2 separate regions of the Homo sapiens genome follow, and region 1 is linked to region 2. Evidence: fine-mapped expression QTL. A gene starts in region 2. The other region holds a variant in brackets. All regions are shown on one strand. Distances are between the middles of the regions.

Evidence for each region. PIP is the estimated chance that this variant, and not a neighbour inherited with it, causes the effect. A credible set is the group of variants that fine-mapping cannot tell apart.
Region 1: its variant is the best candidate, but not a certain one, in a credible set for the expression of FAR2-AS1 in whole blood (TOPMed, PIP 0.78).

Annotation. Positions count from the first base shown.
Region 1 is chr12:29,245,181-29,248,112 of GRCh38, reverse strand. The region is part of intron 1 of FAR2 (fatty acyl-CoA reductase 2); the gene reads right to left. Among named protein-coding and RNA genes, the nearest start is that of FAR2-AS1, 71 kb to the left of the region's middle. The variant T/C (reference allele first, on the strand shown) is at 1,598.
Region 2 is chr12:29,316,343-29,319,274 of GRCh38, reverse strand. It overlaps FAR2-AS1 (FAR2 antisense RNA 1), which reads left to right and starts at 1,427. Exons shown (of 7, transcript NR_103860.1): 1 at 1,427-1,567. FAR2 (fatty acyl-CoA reductase 2) reads right to left here. Exons shown (of 12, transcript NM_001271783.2): 9 at 2,263-2,434.

The sequences.
Region 1 (2,932 bases), 71 kb after region 2:
CTAAAGTAATTGTGATTCAAAGAAATTTCTACCTATTTACTATGAACATCAAAGGTCACAGATGTCACACATAACAATACATGTATTAGAAGAGGTGGAATGTAGAGATATCCTTTCAAATGAATAACTCAAAGTTTTAAAAAGTATTTTCCCTTTGGGTTCTTACTTCCTGATGTTAAAAGTTGAAACAAATGGCTACTTAATGATGTTGAAAAATGTAGTGTAAATGCATGCACAGATAATAGAATAGCATACCAACGATTAATAAACTTATTGTACTACTATGGCATGAAAAATATCTTAATTTCTTCTCACAAGATACGGTCATTTCTTCTGCCACTCCTATGGGTTAAGAGACTTATACAGGTTTATCCATGCAGAGTTTAGAAATAAAGTTGGAAATTTCTATTTCCCAGTTCTTACAACTGTATCTCAATGTGTTATTCAACCAAGGAAATAAAGTTGGTAATTTCTGTTTCCTAGTTCTTACAACCGTATCTCAATGTGTTATTCAACCAAGGAAATGAAGTGGAAACAAAATAGTTTAAATGTGTGAAGACCTTTAACAAGGCCTTGCTTAAAAGGAGATTGATTCAGCACCATAAACTAAGTCCACCAAGAAGACTATTGATTCATGGAATAACACTGAAAAACTGCTACAACATCATTGCACAAATTACTGTTTGCAACCAAAAGATGATAGTGGCCTAGATATAAAAACACATTGTTCTTTTGCAGATATGTGGATTAAGAGAATTTGTTAATGTCAATGATTAGACACAGTATTTATTAACTGTATCTGTCAGAAGAAAAGGCACAGCATTAGTTGCTTCATACAGTGAGACTCCAGGAGCTTAGTCACTGCCACATATCAAGTAATTATTTCTTGAACCATGTGGAAAGTTACATTTCCTAAAAAAGTTAATATGAAGGTTAATTATGTGCAAATCAATATAATATAGTAAACTGGAAATCCTTATTTCCTAATGGAAGTTACTGATCGTAACCTGTGCCAATAAATTGGCAGTCTCTTAGGAAATATGTGAGTAAATGTAAATACATGATTTGGAAATATGCAGTTAGTTCTGTATGTTAGTTATTAGTTATTATGAAATATTATGAAATATTATGAATTATGAAATAACTAATAAAGTTATTAGTTCTTTATGAAGAACAAATGATGAATTAAAGCTAATAATTTCCCTACCAAAATTGTCTCCATAGGAACTTGTTCCATGTTAGAAGAACAATAAACTTCAAATAGTATACTTATTTTTCTCTGGTAATATGCAATTCTATTTAAAAATCAGCAAAAGTTTTAGGCATTTGTCTTTAAGAGAAGGTACTCACAGATCTGCAAAAATTACTTCTTAATAGTGTTAAACTGTGAGTAGTAGCTACAGTACATAAGACTAAAAATACAAGAATTTAATTTTTTCATATTATTAAGTCTGCTGTTTTATGGTCTACACTCTGCGATATAGTTCTTAATTTGACCCTTTATTTTAGAATTTATATGCTGATGCAATTTATTATTGACCTGTTTTGTATATAGGGCAAATATCTGTGTTTATTTTGTTTATCGATCTAAAGTGAA[T/C]TTTGATTTCCTTTTGATTTCTGTGTATCTCACTCTAAGCTATTGTAAAGGTGTGGAGCTAAGGGAAAGACAGAAGAATTCCAAGTCTAAATTCCTGCCTATTTTCTGAGGGCCTGCCTCCAGTCAGAAAGAGGTGAAATTAGAAGAGGTGAAATGTTGAGATATCTTTTCAAATCAATAACTGAAAGTTTTTAAAACTTGATCTTTTTTTTTCTCTGAGTTCTTGCTTTCCAGTGTTAAAAGTTGAAACAAATGGCTTTTTAAATGATGTTTAAAAATATAGTGCAAATGCATGCACAGATAATAGAATAGCATACCAATGATTAATAAACTTATTGTATTACCCTGGCATGAAAGGGTTAGATCTCAAAGCATCCTAATTTCCATGTACCATGATAGTAAAAAGGAAAATTTGATGTATATATTAAAAAAATATAAAACTATAACTATATATACCTAGCTATACTTATATAATTATATATAGCATATTATGTATAACAATATCATATAATATTAAAATAGTAAGGTGACTATAGGAAGGAATTTTAGCTCCTTTTAGTGATGAATAGTAAATCATTTGTGTATTGTGAAGCTGGTTTTGAATAAGAAGTATTATTGGAGATGTGGGAATGCAAGAAGGTATTTGGGGTAGTGATGTTGGGAAAGCAAGGGGAGATGAGAAAGTCCGATGTGTATTCTAAGTGCAAAGTATGGCTGTAGAAATTAGTTCCTGGGAGGAAAGCAAAGAATCCCAGGCTAGAAGAATAGATGACAACAGAAGATGGAAATCCAATGCCAGCATAAAGAGGTAGATTTTTATAGGGACTGGATATTTCTGAGCAATAAAATTATAATGACCAGAAGAGGCTGAGAATGAGACAAGAAACACATCTGGAGTCTATTTCAATGATCCAGGCCAGAGGTATTGAGGAGTTGAACTGGGGCAAGGAGTAGTGGTTCTCATACTTTAACGCAAATCAGAAAGAACCATCTGGGAAGTTTACTTATTAAACTTGCAGATTTGGAGACCCCCCAAGCCCAACCCCATTCTGATTCAGGGGATGACTAATTTAATGAGTACTGACACATAAATAAAGCAGATGTGGGTTTGAATTTTAGCTCTACCACTTACTAGCTATGATCTTAGGCAAATGACAGGCCATACCAGTTGCTATTTCCTCATTTGTAAAGTAAGAACAATATTATTGGGAAGACTTACTTTAAAAGGGCAGACAGGGCCAGGCGCAGTGGCTCACGCCTGTAATCCCAGCACTTTTGGAGGCTGAGGTGGGCGGATCACGAGGTCAAGAGATTGAGACCATCCTGGCCAACGTG
Region 2 (2,932 bases):
TCATGCCTGTAATCCCAGCACTTTGGGAGGCCGAGGCGGGTGACTTGCTTGAGGTCAGGAGTTCGAGACCAGCCTGGTCAAGATCGTGAAACCCCATCTCTGCTAAAAATACAAAAATTAGCCAGGCACAGTGGCGGGCGCCTGTAATCCCAGCTACTCGAGAGGCTGAGGCAGGAGAATCGCTTGAACCCAGGAGGCAGAGGTTGCAGTGCGCTGAGATCTCGCCACTGCACTCTAGCCTAGGTGACAAAGCAAGACTCCATCTCAAAAAAAAAAGAAAAAAGAAAAAGAAAAAAAAAAGACTTTTGTACCCTTCATACACTGTTGTGGTAGTGCCAATTGACAGTCTCTTCCTTAGGGAGGGTCACCTGGCACTAGTCACAAACTCCACATACTCTTCAATCCAGCAGTCTCCCTCCTCAGCATCCTCTCCTGACACAGGCACATTCTACAAAGAGGCATGCACACTGATATTCATTGCCCTATTTGCAGTAGAAAAAAAAGACAACACCGGGCAGAATGACTTAGATTTTCATGGAAAATTAGTGGAAAAAGTTGTAAAATATGTACAATTGATTTATATACACACATACCCCCCTACTGCAAAGCAAACTATGTACGTCCATATATGGATGTAAAAGCATAGGAGAGTATACACAAGCACACCTGGAGCAGGAAAGGGTCTAGAAGGATTTCAGCTTTTTCTGCCATAAAGATTATTGCTAAAATACATACCACACAACAAACCAACCCATTTCCCACAAATATTACTGTTTGACTTCTCACAAGATACATATAGATTTTTATTGTGTCTCTTCCTTCTGTGTTTCTCTTTTTTCCTAACTGAACTTTGTTCTTTATGCAGGCCCTCTTCCAATCCTGATATATTTTAAAACCTTTAGCATTTCTGCCTACAATATTTGGGTTTTCTTCTTTTCCTGTCTTTATTTAATAAGCCCCATACAAATATTTTCCCCATAATCACAATGTTTCCTTTTCACCTTGCTCAAGAACTGAGTTATGAGCTCCAAATGAGGTCTTTAAAAATTTAGATAAACTCTACATTGGCTAAGTTTTAGTCATTTGCACTGCTAATAAAGATGACAAACACGCTGAAGAAGACTTCCTCCCTTATAAAGGGGCTAGCACAGAAGGCAATACTGTTCATACTTCTGATTCTTGATCACGAGAATTGCCTTAGGCAATTATAACAATGACTCCTCTGACACATAATATTATTCAAGCGAGACAGATAAAGGCGTATGTCCTGTGTCACACAGCTAGGTGGTGACAGCTGCCTTAGCATCAGCACACTGTGTTCCCTCTAATTTCTTCACTCATCTCTAGGTGGCAGTAAATCTGGTTCCGAATACTGACTTTGAGACTCGGCTTTCTCCACATCCTTCCTGTCACTTCCTTTGAGACTAATTCAGATTCTTTCCTTAGCTTCTATTTCCCCATTTGTAAAATTGGGATGATGAGGACATCTTCCTTGGGTAGCTGTGACAATGAAAATGGGATCATCATGCATCAGCCTTAGCCCCACGAGTGCCACAGTAAACTCTCAGTAAGTGAGGTTGTCATCATTATTGTATATTTAAGATTATCTACCTATTCAGAAAACCCTAGTGACAGAGTCTCAATTGCTTTTCTTTTCGCATGAATGATTACTTGCTGAATTCATCAACCTCTTTAACATTTACCTTCCTTTATTGTGCTGGAACATTTTTAATGTCTTTTGTGGCTTCTCACTATGACTGCTTTGTTCAAAACTTATACAGGTCGAGTATCCTTTATGTGAAATACTTGGGCCAGAAGTGTTTTGGGTTTTGATTGTTTTCAGATTTTGGAATATTTGCATATATGTAATGAGCTATCTTGGGGATGGGACCCATGTCTAAACACAAAATTCATTTCTGTTTCATACACACTTAGCCATATACACAGAGCCTGAAGGTAATCTTACATAATATTTTAAATAATTTTATGTATGAAACAGTTTTGAATGTCTTTTGACTGTGACCCATCACATGAGGTAAGGTATGTGGAATTTTCCACTTGTGGCATCATGTCAGCACTCAAAACGTTTTGGATTTTGGAGAATTTCAGATTTTGGATTTTCAGATTAGGTGTGTTCAATCTGTATATATGGGTAAGATTCAGTTGTCTCCTTTAATCCTCGGCTGAAGGAAGCACTAAAGATTTTGGGGCCTTAATCTCCCATGCAGTGACACTCTCAAAGCCATTGACTCAGCTTCTCACCTGGGCTTCCTTCCAGTGAGCCGCAGATAGCAGTCATAGATAATGGCAGGGGCCCGGTGGCTGACCGCATTCCAGTACTGTGATGTGAAGCTGTTGCTGGTAAAATTAGCATTTGGCCTCCTGAAAGGTCTCTCAAATGGGATTTTTTCAAAGGTTGCCAAGACTTGGACTCCTGGGGAAAAAAGAAAGTAAGTGCTAGAGGAGAAAAGGAGAATATAAGTCCATCATAGTGGAAAGCATTTGTAATGGGTCAAAACAATAAAGACGAAGGATTTGCTGTGTAGAGTCAAGAATCAATTTCTGAGAACAATATAAAGATTTTTGTGCTGGGCAAATGGTTATCTGCAAACTGAAACAGTGTGAATGGGTTAATAATTGGATTCTTTAGTTGAAGCATTTACTGTAAAACAAACTATTGGGGAAACACTTGTCAATACAAGGAGGTACTGTTCAGAAAAACATGAATCTGCCTTTAATTCTAAGGTCATCCAGTCTATTCTGAAAGCCCCAAGACAGAGGCGAGAGACCTTATTTCCCTGGCTGGACCATTACTTTCAGAACCATTTAGAAAGTTTCTTAACATTTTATTTGAATCTTTATTAAAGGTTTAAGTAAAAGATTGTAAAGATTCTCAAGGCAAGATTTCTTTGTGTTAGTCTACTTCAAATAC